Homo sapiens: one gene and its partner. The protein of the gene in region 1 purifies or fractionates together with the protein of each later gene. This does not show direct contact. Each region holds a gene or a part of one and is shown on either strand. Other genes may lie near its edges.

Region 1 (7,028 bases):
ACTCCCACTTTCAGTACTCGAGTTACATAATTACCTCCAAAATTGCAGCTGACATGCCTTCAGAGACAGAGCTATTCACCACCGCGAAGCAATTCTTCACCACCGCGTGCAGATCTTCTTGAGGCATCTCTCCAATCAATCGTACCCCAGCGGCTCTGAAACACAAAGCAGGAAGAGTGGCTCTGATTCCAAGAATCTCATGGGTAGGCAGCTGGGAGGAGGAGAGATGACAATTTGGGTGTAATACTCTAGATCAGCAAGTAAGCATTGTTGACCAAGCGTTCAGCCAGGAGAACTATACTGGGGTGGAAATCCTTACAGCTCATGTCCCTGACAAGGGAGGGAGGGAGTTGCTTAACATGTCTGCTTTTGTTTTCCATATGCTCCATAAAGACACCTGCTCTCAAGGACTAGAAGAGTCAGAGACAAGGTTCATGCCATTTTCTCTGCATGATTTAGAGAACATTTTTCTAATAATTCAACTTTTTTTCAAATAATTCTTTAAAATACTAATGAGACAATAAGAATAGAAATAATAGAAATAGGCCGGGTGCAGTGGCTCACACCTGTAATCCCAGCATTTTGGGAGGCTGAGGCGGGCAGATCACCTGAGATCAGAAGTTGGAGACCAGCCTGGCGAACATGGCGAAACCCCGTCTCTACTAAAAATACAAATATTAGCCAGGCGTGGTGGTGCGCACCTGTAATCCCAGCTACTTGGGAGGCTGAGGCAGGAGAATTGCTCGAACCCGGGAGGCGGAGATTGCAGTGAGCTGAGATTGTGCCATTGCACTCCAGCCTGGATGACAGAGCAAGACTAGGTCTCAAAAAAAAAAAAAAAAAAAAAAAAAAAAAAAGGAGGCCGGGCGCAGTGGCTCACGCCTGTAATCCCAGCACTTTAGGAGGCCAAAGCGGGTGATCACGAGGTCAGGAGATCGAGACCATGGTGAAACCCTGTCTCTATTAAAAATACAAAAGATTAGCCGGGCGCAGCGGCGGGTGCCTGTAGTCCCAGCTACTCAGGAGGCTGAGGCAGGAGAATGGCGTGAACCCAGGAGGTGGAGCTTGCAGTGAGCTGAGATCACGCCACTGCACTCCAGCCTGAGCGACAGAGCGAAACTCTGTCTCAACAACAACAACAACAAAAAAGAATGGAAATAGAAATACTAGAGACGATAATGTCACAAAAGCCCTGTTCCCAGCACACAGCGCTGACAGCTATTTTGTCATAGACATTTTGCCTTGTTCTATTTTTTTCACCAGACAATGTAAATCTTCGCCTTTCTTCGATCTTCCCCGTCCCCACCGCTGGCCACCACTCTCATGGCTCTGCCAGGCCTCCCTTCCCCGAGCAGGTGATACTTTTGCACACACGCGTCTGCACCTAGGAGCAATCTAAAGATCCCTGATTATAGATGGGGAAAAAACAGTCTTTGTCAGTGCCCTTTGTGGTTGGTGTGGCCAATGAGTCTGGCTGGAATCCTGGGGGGCTGTGAAGACACCACTTTACAGGGGGCTGACCCAAATAAGACCCACATCCTTCTGGTCTGCTCATTCCCATCACCCCACTTAAAATGCAGACTGATGACACAGCTCTATAGCTACCATGTCACCTTCAGGATGGGAGCCACAGGCTGAGGAAGTCAGGACAGAGACAGGAGCCAAATCCCTGAGGTCTCAGGGAAGCCTCCGTTTTGCTCCTTGAATGACCACCCTCAGACTTGTTGATGTGAGCAATGAAAGTTCAATCTGTTCAAGCCTGTGCTGTTGGGTTCCTGGCCGACAAATGCAACTTATAACCAACACACCAACAAATTGCCCTCCAGGCAGGCTGTGACAAAGGGCAATACCCCTCCATTCTTCCAAATCCTTGAGAGTTTAAATCTTTCCATTCTGGCCAATGTGATCCATTAAAAATTATAATCACAAAGTGATTTTTATTGGCCTTTCCCTGGGCAAATAATAGTGCCTAGGATGCCACGGGCTCGCCGGGAAGATGCATGAGGAAACAGTTGGAAACTGCTTGGAATAGTGCCTGGGACTGGATAAATGTGAGTTCAGGTAACCCAGGGGCCACTCAGGCTTCCCGTTCTGCAAAATGACTGGTCTCCACCAACTCTTACCTTTTCACTTTGGCTTTCACTTCCCTTGTAAACACTGGATCGACCTGAAAAGAGACAAAGATAAATGTCAGCGGTCGCCGCCTGCTAGTGGCGCTGCCAGCCGGCCAGCACGGGCCAGGCCAAAGCCCTGGTGCCAGCGCGGCGTGGGCCTCGGTCTGCGGCCACGGGGGTGTCCTCGCGGCTGCTGCGTGTGGTGATCATGGGGGCCCCCGGCTCGGGCAAGGGCACTGTGTCGTCGCGTATCACTCAATACTTCGAGCTAAAGCACCTTTCCAGCGGGGACCTGCTCCGGGACAACATGCTGCGGGGCGCAGAAATTGGCCTGTTACATGTTCTCACTCATAGGTGGGAATTGAACAATGAGAACACATGGACACAGGGAGGGGAACATCACACACCGGGGCCTGTTGGGGGTCGGGGGCTGGAGGAGGGATAGCGTTACGAGAAATACCTAATGTAAATGACGAGTTGATGGGTGCAGCAAACCACCATGGCACATGTATACCTATGTAACAAACCTGCACATTGTGCACATGTACCCCAGAACTTTATATATATATATACATATATATATAAATTGACGTGTTAGCCAAGGCTTTCATTGACCAAGGGAAACTCATCCCAAATGATGTCATCTTGGCGTGGCCCTTCAGGAACTGCAAAATCTCACCCAGTCTAGCTGTTGGATAGTTTTCCAAGGACACTTCCACAGGCAGAAGCCCTAGATAAAGCTGATCAGACCGACACAGTGATTAACCTGAATATGTCCTTTGAGGTCATTAAACAACGCCTTACTGCTCACTGGATTCATCTCACCAATGGCCAAGTCTACAACATTGGATTCAACCCTCCCACAACTGTGGGCATTGATGCTCTGACAGGGGAGCCGCTCATTCAGCGTGAGGATGATAAACCAGAGATGGTTATCAAGAGACTAAAGGCTTATGAAGCCAAACAAAGCCAGTCCTGGACTATTACCAGAAAAAAAGCGGTGTTGGAAACATTCTCCAGAACAGAAACCAACAAGATTTGGCCCTGTGGATATGCTTTCCTCCAAACTGACGTTCCTCAAACAAGCCAGGAAGCTTCAGTTACTCTATAAGGAGAAATGTGTGGAACTATTAGTAGTAAGATGGGCAAACCTCATAGTCCTTGCATTTAGAAGCTGCTTTTCCTAAGAATTCCAGTATGTATGAATTCTTTGAAAATTATATGACTTTTATTTCTACTGATTTGATTCTAGATACTAAGGATGTGCCAAATGAGTCAGATACTAAGATTCATCCTTTGAAATCATCTAGTGTGTTTTACGCAGCTATCCTCAAAAACATCAGTGATGTCTGAACTTTTAAAACATCTGTTGGAGCAAAATTAAAAGAGCATTTGGTAGTAATCTAAGTTTTTGTTCAGTTAATAAGTGGTTGATAAAGCTTCCGTATTTTCCCGGAAAAGTTAAAAAAAAGTTACATGTCATTGGGGGAAAATATGTGATCAGAAATGTTTGCACAGATCGATGCCACAAAAGACATCTCCAGCGTTGTGGAACATGGGGAGACACTATATAAAATACCAGAAAGAAAGCAAGTGGGTTTACAGATTTGTTGTAAGACACAAATCCTCTGCTACTAAGAAATGTGTATGCTAACCATATATGCTGTATTTATTTTGTTGTTAAGCATACTTTCAGTTTACTCAGAATTTTCAATTTGCTACAACAATGTATCCATTCGCATATAGAAAAATATTACTTTAAGATGACTTGTTTCCTTTGAAAATACATATGTACTGAGGGTTATGATTTATGTCAGAAATTAACATTATAAGTTCTTGGACAAGCACCGAAGTTGAATGAATTTTCAACAAAATGTAATTAAAATCTATATGTTTTCAGATGTGACTCAGGTTGAGAAATGTGTTTTAGGATCTACTTGCCGGTTCCTCTTTTTGATCCAAATGTATGATCCGCCCTGATAAATAACAAGTTATAGTGCCACTCCCTGCCAAAAAAAAAAAAGAGAGAAAAGAGAAAACCTGTGGCACTATGTAAATAAAGTAAGCACACTTTGTCGTTAGTAAATAGATGAGATATGCCTGGGAAACGCTCCCTTGGCATAAATAGCAATCAATCATAATTAGTAAACAGGTGTGCCAATAAAAAGACTTTACACAATAGGTTAACCAGGACCAGTAAGTGAGTTTCCTGAAGGAGTTCTTTGTTCCTGATCCAAGAAATCGATACCTGTTAGCATTCACTGCCACCTTATTTTAAAGGGAAAGAACTCTGTTGGTGTCATCTGAGAAGCCATTTAAAAACTGGAATCTAGGCCGGGCGTGGTGGCTCACGCCTATAATCCCAGCACTCTGGGAGGCCGAGGCGGGTGGATCATGAGGTCAGGAGATCGAGACTATCCTGGCCAACATGGTGAAACCCCGTCTCTACTAAAATACAAAAAATTACTCGGGCTGGATGGCGCGCCTGTAGCCCCAGCTAATCAGGAGGCTGAGGCAGGGGAATCACTTGAACCCGGAAGGTGGATGTTGCAGTGAGCCTAGATCGTGCCACCGCACTCCAGCCTGGGGGGCAGAGCGAGACTCTGTCTCAAAAAAAAAAAACAAAAAACAAAAACAAACAAACAAAGAAAATTGGAATCTAAAGTGATTCCTGAGTGGGGCAGCAAGGATGGCTGCTGATGTGCTGTGTGGTCTGGGAGAAGTGGGGCAGTAGGAGAGGTGGACGGAAAACCTGATGGCGTCTTCCATGGCGTATTTACTCTTTACTTGGTGCCAGAACAAATGAAACAAGCCCTCGTACAAGCTGTTATTAATTGCCTTTAAAAATCTTTTCCATTTTTTCCCCAGGTACTTAAAATACAAGTGCCAGTAAGCAGTTCTTATGTATTTTTGGGGAAAAAAATTTATTTTCCTTTTCTTCTGATATTTTAAAAATTCATTGATCTTTCAAGATGAACCAAAGTTTCTTAAAAGAATTATAGTACACACTTCATTCTTTATAAAACTTTCTATAATGCCTTATTTAAATGTTAATCGTACGTGCTTTCTAAAAATGTTGTGAACTACCAAACTTGTGGATTATCACTAGGTTATCAGGCATACATTAGTCTTTATCAGAATAAAATGAAATTTCATAACTGAGGCTATTACTTTGTCCTTGGTCCTTCACAGGGCCTGCTCCACCCCACCTTCCTTCCTGCTGCCTGATGTCTCAGTGGCTTCTGAATGACTGTGTTCTAATAAATGACCTTAAAACAGTGGAAAAAAAAAAAAGAAGACACATGTTAGCAAAAGCCTGAAATGAAGCTAAGTCTCCAGGAATTACATCAAATGGCAGCAGAGCCAGACTCAACAATTCAGAGAGGGAAAAAAATAAGTAGGAAATGGTACTATGAGCCCAGCTATTAAATAATAAAAACAATAATAGTAAAAAAAAAAAAAAAAAAAAAAAAGAGAGAGAGAGAGAGACCAGGCACGGTGGCTCATGCTGGTGGCTCATGCCTGGAATCCCAGCATTTTAGGAGGCTGAGGAGGGGGGATCATGTGATCAAGAGTTCGAGACCCGCCTGCTGGCCAACATGGTGAAAGCCTGTCTCTACTAAAAACACAAAAATTGACTGGGCGTGGGGGTAGAGTGAGCACCTGTAATCCCAGCTACTTGGGAAGCTGAAGCGGAAGAATCGCTTGAACCCGGGGTGCGGAGGTTGCAGTGAGCCGAGATGACCGCATTGCACTCCAGCCTAGGTAACAGAGTGAGACTCTGTCTCAAAAAAAAAAAAAAAAAAAAAGAGAAAGAGAGAGAGAAAGAAGAGACAGAATGTTCCAAAGAATACATATAGACTCTGGTTAGGAGCCTGTATGGCTACACCTGAGTGTGGTGAGTGAGAACCCTTCAGCCAACTTAAGGTCTTGAGACAGAGTCGTTTCCAGAAATGGGACAATTTGACAACCACCCAATATTGCAGTGGAAGTGTTGCTTAAATGATGCAGAAGGATTTTGTCATAAAATCATTCAGGCAGAATAGGTTGGAATCCTTAGTAAGTCTATGACCAAAGGTCTGACCATATCAAAATATTTTTTAACAGGATGACTTCGCAGAAACAGTTTGAAAGGCCAGGACCTGATCATCAGCTGATGAATGAGTAGACGTGATGTGCCAATCCATACAAAGGAGTGCCACTCAGCCGTGACAAGGAAGTGCCAACTTAGGCAGCAACAAGGGTGAGCTTGGAAAACACGATGCCACGTGAGTTACACCAGACAGGAAAGACCACAGAGTGTATGATTCCATGTCTATGAAATGGCCAAAGCAGGCAAATCACAGAGACAGAAAGTAGATTGGTGGTTACCCAGGGGTCACTCAGGATCTAATTAGGGGTTATTGGGGTGAGGCGGAAATGGGAAGTGACTGCTTAGTGGATAGAGGGTATCCTCTTGGGGAGAGAAAAAATATTCAGGAATGAGATAGGTGTGATGGTTGCACAACTTTGTGAATAGACTAAAACCCACTGGCTTGTACCCTCTAAAATGGTGAATTTCGTGGCATGTGAATTCCACCTCAACTTTTTAAAGGCCAGGGGCAGCCTTTTCATTAGTCACAACCTAACATCCTCCAGTCCCGACTTGACTCCTGCTTTGCATCTGGAAGGAACAGGTGCTTTGGGGCAGGGACTATTTCCGTCCTGTTGCATTCCTGAAGGCTAATAACACACTTGTTGAATTCATGCAAAAATTAATAGCAACATGTTCAAACTTATCGCTCCTCAAAGACAGGCCAGAAGTTTTTAAGCAAACTCGTAGTGGATGTGTGGAGGCCAGAAAGAGGCAGCACCAGACTGAGGGGACTCCGGATACAGAGGGCCAGGGTCAGGCCACCCAGGCACCAAACTAGC
Region 2 (7,028 bases), on another chromosome or scaffold:
TATGTCTTAGATATACAGCACAGGTGCACAGGTCTTAGATATACAGCTCAGTGAAGCTTCAGAAATGCATGCATGCATGTAGCCATGACTCAGATCAAGATACGGAAGAGCCCAGCACTCCACGATGCTCCATCATGCCCCTTTGCAGAAAATACTGCCTCCTCCAGTAAACACTATTCTGATGTCACTATAGATTAGTTTTGCCTCTTCGTGAACTTTGTATAAATAGAACTGAACAATATGAACTGTCCTGTGTGATTTCTTGTATTTCATTATGGGTGGTGTGCTATTGTATCAACAGGGTATTTGGGTGGTTTTCAGATTTGTGATATTAACAATAAAGGAATTATAAATATTGTAGTACATTTTGGGGGTGTCTGGGTACTCATTTTCTGGATATATACCTAGGAAGTGAACTGTTGTGTTATAGAGTAATTGTGTGTTTAGCCTTATAGATTCTGCCAAACAGTTTTCCAAAGTGATTCCAGCAGTTGACAATCAGCAGAGTATGAGAGTTTCAGTTTTCTCCTCTTGATAATTCTCCTCTCGATAGTGTCAGTCTTTTTTTTTCCTTTTTTTTTGTTAGTGTCAATCTTTATTTGAGCCTTTTTGTTGAGTGTCGCAGTATCGCATTTTAGTTTCAATTTGCATTTCCTTGATGATTAATGAGATTGAACAGTTTATTGACTTTTTTTTTTTTTTTTTGGTTTTCTTTGTTTCTTTTGGAGAAGGGCTTGTGAAGGTCTTTTGCCCTTTTAAAAATTAGATTGAAGGAATTTTTTACATACTTTGAATATAAGCCCTTTGTCAGATATATGGATTCTGAATATCTGCTCCCAGTCTATGACCTTCATTTTTATTCTCTTACTTTTGTCTTTTGATGAACAGAAATTTTTAATTTTAGTGAAGTCTAATATCTCAGTCTTCTCTTTTATGAGTAGTGCCTTTTGTATCCATTTAAGGAATCTTGGCCTACCCCAAAGTCATATATATATGCTTATATATTTTCTTCTAGATGTTTAATGTTTACTTTTTACATTTAGGCCTATCATCTATTTTGAATTATTTTTGTATATGCTATGACTTATGGGTCAAGCTTCAGGTTTTTCTCATGTGGTATATCCAGTTAGTTAAACAGCATCAATTCAAAAGGCTATCCTTTCCTCAGCAAATTGCAGTGGTGTCTTTGATATAAATATACAATACATATATATATACACACACACACACACACACACACACACAATGTGTATCTGTATATACAATCAGGTGATTGTATATATGTTGTTTTGTTTGGGGAATTAAGTTTCATTTACATATTTGTCTTTTTGTCTTCCCTTATATCAATACTATTTCACCTCAGTTACTAAAGCTTTATAGTAAGTCTTCAAATTAGGTGGTATAATTCTTCCAACTTTGTTTTTCTCAATATTTATTTAAGTTACTGATTTCTCTGAGCAGTATCTTTTATTTTCAGGGAGAAGACCTCACATGCCATTCGTTAAAATTATTCTTAGATATTGATGGTTTGGGAAGCTATTTTTAAAATTTCAATTTAAGCTTTATGGCATGTAACGAAAAATATTTTCCCCACGACCCCAAAAGTTTTATCTTTAAGCTAGCAAAGCAGTAGTGTCATTATTTTAAATAGCCAACAGTACCTTCATTTTATGAGATGATTGAGAATTTGTGAAAATCAGTAGTATTTATCAACAAAAGTGGCTAGTTTTGTGTGCTGCTTCTTTAAAAAACTCATTTAAAAGATAGCATACTGGAAATATGTACTTGCTGCCTTTATGGAAAGCAAGTCTAATTCCTTTATTATGTAAAGAACTCTAGCAACTCAATACCAAATAGAAATACCTTATGGATTAAGAAGAATAACATGATGTATAAGTGGTGTAAATTTATATAATTATTATAAATTATTATAAATGTATAATAAAATAACTAGAATTTCACCAAATTAGAAATTTAATGGAAATAAAATACACATTGGATTTGGGTGAAAAAAACATGTTGAGCTTAACATGTTAATGTTAAATGGGACAGAAATACAATGTGCTGCCTACTTTTGAATTAAATGCTAAATAGCAGTATTATACATTTTGGGAAAATATTCAAAAAATAAAATACCCTAGAATGGAGTTTCTTGGCAGCTCTGTACTAATTTTAATAGTTCTTGAATCTCCTTTTTCACCTTAGAAATTTTAGTCACACTTTAAAAATCTGGGCAAAATATATGTCCAGCAAACAGCCAAGAGCCAGATGTATTAAATGATCATATTTACGCTCCCAAAAGAAAATTCAAAATGAAGCATGTTGATAAACATTTTGGATGTGATGTTGGAGAACAATTGCAACCTGCCCAGATGTTCAGCTCGCCCGAAGGCTGCCTCCTTGGTGACTTGTTTCATCTTGAGTCTAGAGAGTCCAGGCTGGGGAAGAAAACCACCTCCAGCCGGCCGTTCCAGCACAGCCCCACTGGCCAAAGCACACACTCACACAATGAAAACACTGAAACTTTTTCTTAAAACAAATTTTTCTCCCATTGTCATGGTTCTGTATATTAACACAAAATTTTCTTTTCTCATAGGAGAGATTATTTCATTCAATATTTTTTATGAATTATTTACCATTTGTACTTCAATAGTAGCAGAAGACAAAAAAGGTAATTGTGCGCTGAGGGAGGGTGGGCAGCATGAAGCACTACATAAAGAAAAATCTTCTAAATGAAATTAGAACTTCTGAAATTTGGGCTTGCTATGTAAATTCTGTGTATGTTGCATACAGCTTTTTATTTCTTGGTAAAATTTTGTGATTGTACTGAAAATTTTCCTTATTTTCAGACTACTGTACTGCCTATTAAAGTTGATTTCAGACATGCAAAAAACCTGGAAGAAATGTTGCAGGGCTAGAAACATTCTTCTCTTCCTCATAGTTTACTTCTACCCATCTACATGCTTTGATGGAAGTGCTCGCAGGAGGTGCTTCCTTATCTTCGTGTATGTCATGACATCTGTCCTTTTCTTGAGGCCCAGAACACACATTCTCCCATCCTTTCCCAGCCAGGCAACCCAATGGATACCAGCCTCACTTTCCCGTATTTTTCCTGACTGGTTCCCAGAGTACAAAGCACAGGACAACTTCGCTAACTCACCCTGATCTTTGACCTATACTCTGGGTATAAATCTGCCTGTACCTTACCCTTGAGATGTCCTGCTCTAGGGGATGATGCCTGAAGGGAAACATTTGATGAATCACAGTAATTGAGGCTCCGATTTCTGTGTCCTGGTAGAACCATGTGATAGTGAACCAAAACATGACCATTGATTCCTTTTCCCATATTCTGATCTTACCTGGAAACCCGTGCTCTCAGATTTTGTGGGGTTATCTGGCAGATAGACGGTGACAACAGTCCCATCTGGTGAAGGCTTAGGATATTAGGATGTTTCTTACTTCTTATTGTTTGAAGAAACAGTTGTGAATAAAAATTAATCAAAATTAGAGGCCAGGCACAGTGGCTTACACCTGTAATGCCAGCACTTTGCGAGGCCGAGGCGGGCGAATCATCTGAGGTTGGGAGTTTGACACCAGACTGGCCAACATGGTAAAACCCCTTCTCTACTAAAAGAAAAATACAAAAAAAAAAAAAAAGTAGCCAGGTGCGGTCGCACATGTCTGTAATCCCAACTACGTGGAAGGCTGAGGCACAAGAATTGCTTGAACCTGGGAGGCAGAGGTCGCAGTGAGCTGAGATCGCACCACTGCACTCCAGTCTGGCCAACAGAACGAGACTCTGTCTCAAAAATAAATTAATTAATCAAAATTAATTGTCCAGCTTTGATTTAGAATCTTAACTGCTATTACACGTCTCTTCTGTCTACCTTCAAATAGGTCATCTAATACATGGGAGAAACATGGATTTTGGAGTATTTCTTGGGTAAGTAAAGAACAAAGGGTCAGGCATGGTGGTTCACGCCTGTAATCCCAGCTTTTTGGGAGGCTGACACGGGTGGATCACGAGGTCAGGAGTTCAAGACCAGCCTGGCCAAGATGGTGAAACCCCGTCTCTACTAAAAACATAAAAATTAGCCAGGCATGGTGGTGGGCATCTGTAATCCCGGCTACTTGGGAGCCTGAGGCAGAGACTTTTTTGAACCTGCGAGGCGGAGGTTGCAGTGAGCCGAGATCGCGCCACTGCACTGCAGCTTGGGATACAGAGCCAGACTCCATCTCAAAAAAAAAAAAAAAAAAAAGAACACAGAACTGTTTTGGTCTGTAGGAAGAGTAGGTTGTGTTATATTGATGATAAGTAAGTCCCAAGTCACACCCAAAATGTGATCATAAGTGAAGATAAATGGATTGCTTGAGTGCTGAGACAAGAGGGACATGCTCTTCTATTTTATGTGTCCATCTTGACCTTTCTGAAAAAATAAGAATATTGTAATTAGCATTCTATGTTTGAATCTGAGGCTCACTATTTATAAGCTGTGTGATATTGAGAGAGTTACCTGACTTCTCTGAACCTCAATTTTATCATTTGGAAAACAGAATAAATATACCATATTGTAAAGGTCTTGTTAGGATTGATCGTGGTGACTCGGTAAATAAAGCTCCTAGTGTAATGCCTGGCCCTCATCATCATGTTGATCATTACTATCACTGTGTTTCTGAAATGTCACTGAAACATGTCTTTTATAGGTGGAACATAAATAATGATACCTGGGTCATAACTGAGCAACTAAAACCTTTAACAGTGAATTTGGATTTCCAAAGAAACAACAAAACTGTCTTCAAGGCTTCAAGCTTTGCTGGCTATGTGGGCATGTTAACAGGATTCAAACCAGTAAGGAGTCTGTTGTTACATAATTATACAGGTAGCCTTCTGTCCTGTTACCGTTATGTAAAAGTTGAAATCTAAGAATATGAGGACCTAAAGGGAATATGAAGCCCCATTTCACCCCCTTGTACTTCTTGTCACTTCATAGGTATGAGATCTCGTGGTAGAGAAGAGTAGAAAGGAAACGGAGGTTTCTGAGCCTCTTCTGGGATAAAGAGCATGTGGCTGGGTGTCAAGGGCTGGGAGTCACAATCTGATTTCTAGTCCTGGGTCTTCCGCTCACTTAGGCAAGTCAGGCGTTCATTCTCTGCCCTTCAGTTTCCTGTCCAAAAAGCGTTGCCAGTGATACCCCACCTACTTATCTCACATACTAGAATCAAAAATGCTTTGAACTTTTTAAAAAGCCTTTTATGGTTTTGATTTATTTTTGCCTTCCCCATTACCCAAGCTAGGCCTTTATATCCCACTCTGAAGTACAGTGAGCGACAGGGCCTTAAAGCGCATGGTTGATGTTTCTGACTTCGTTGCTTTGTCTTTTTCTCAGGGACTGTTCAGTCTTACACTGAATGAACGTTTCAGTATAAATGGTGGTTATCTGGGTAAGTAGAGCATTCTCAAGTGAAATGGGAATCTCAGAGCTTTTTTATGAGGAAGGCTGGACTGTGCCTTCTGGTTACAAAGTCCAACCTCTTCCGGTTCCCGACTGGTTACAAAGTCTAACCTCTTCTGGTTCCTGACTGGTTATATAGTCCAGCCTCTTCCGGGTCCTGACTGGTTACATAGTGTCACCTCTTCCGGTTCCTGACATTGTGTTCATCTCTTCCAGGTATTCTAGAATGGATTCTGGGAAAGAAAGATGTCATGTGGATAGGGTTCCTCACTAGAACAGTTCTGGAAAATAGCACAAGGTAAAGTGTTTCGTTGCTTTACTATTAAATATTTATTTTAAATTACTCATATTAAAAAATAAAAATATTTGTCAAGCTCCAGCTTAATCCTTTGAGGAACTATTGCAGAATTTCTTAGGTGAACCTCTGACACTCATGTGGAATTACTCATGTTTTCTTCGTGCAGACTGTGTGTTTTATAGCAAATAAATGAATTACTTAAAAAGCACTAGGGATACTGACATTATGAAAGGCACCTATGAATATTTTTGGTGTACAGAAAAAAAATGACCCACACACAAAAGAACAGTCATACAGTAAAATCTTCATTTAAATGGTAGTACAGACCAGGCACAGTGGCTTATGCCTGTAATCCTCACGCTTTGGGTGGCTGAGATAGACAGATGACTTGCACCCAGGGGTTTGAGACCAGTCTGAGCAACATGGCGAAACCCCGTCTCTATAAAAAATACAAAAATTAGCCAGGCATGGTGACACGTGCCTGCCTGTAGTCCCAGCTACTCAGGAGGCTGAGGTGGGAGGATCACCTGAGCCCAAGGAGGTCGAGACTGCAGTGAGCTGGGATCAGTCCACTGCACTTCACCCTGAGTGATAGAGTGAGACTCTGTCTTAAAAAAACAAAATAAATAAATACAAAATGTACTACATATTAACCTGTAAGTTATATCTTGCCTTGGTATAGAAATCTTACAATAGCAAAACTGCCTTTCCTTCATTCAGCCAGCACTGCGTCCAAATAAATGGGCATCAATCCTATTTTTAATACTTCCCAGGGAATAAGATTTAATGTTAGTAGTGTTCTTTGATAACCCACTTCAATTTTTAATAGTCCTAATTTTCAAGAAGGTTTACTTTCTGTTCTCTAAGTCCTACATACTGTAATATTATTTCCCTTTGTTCTGTTGTTGAGTGAAAGGCATGGACAGTAAGGGTGGAAGATGATCTCTTGAGGCCACTTTGTTTCTCCTTCAGATTAGAGGGGCTTCCTAAGATTCCCGCTTCCCATCTCAGTGTTCACCATACAGGGTCAGGGATTGCTTTTCCCAGAGGCATTGCTCACCATCCTTTTTTAGAAAACACATTGTGGCTGGCCATGGTGGCTCATGCCTGTAATCCCAGTACTTTGGGAGGCGAAGGCAAGAGTATCGCTTGTGCCAAGGAGTTCGAGACCAGCCTGGGCAACAGAGTGAGAGCCCATCTCTAAAAATAGAAATAAATAAATAACACATTCCTTAGATACTTGTTTTTCTTTAGTTTCTACAGAGCTAAACATTTCC

Evidence for each region. The genes of interacting proteins can lie anywhere in the genome.
Region 2: the proteins of GLT1D1 (region 1) and ASAH1 purify together in Homo sapiens (affinity purification with mass spectrometry; 2 studies listed by BioGRID and IntAct, with this or other methods). This does not show direct contact.

The regions. Positions count from the first base shown.
Region 1 is NC_000012.12:128,940,465-128,947,492, reverse strand, and holds part of GLT1D1 (glycosyltransferase 1 domain-containing protein 1 isoform 2 precursor), read right to left. Parts: intron 2,168-7,028; coding exon 2,124-2,167; intron 156-2,123; coding exon 35-155; intron 1-34.
Region 2 is NC_000008.11:18,060,100-18,067,127, reverse strand, and holds part of ASAH1 (acid ceramidase isoform a preproprotein), read left to right. Parts: intron 1-2,596; coding exon 2,597-2,671; intron 2,672-3,897; coding exon 3,898-3,943; intron 3,944-4,704; coding exon 4,705-4,849; intron 4,850-5,387; coding exon 5,388-5,442; intron 5,443-5,669; coding exon 5,670-5,751; intron 5,752-7,028. UniProt on the Homo sapiens protein: Lysosomal ceramidase that hydrolyzes sphingolipid ceramides into sphingosine and free fatty acids at acidic pH.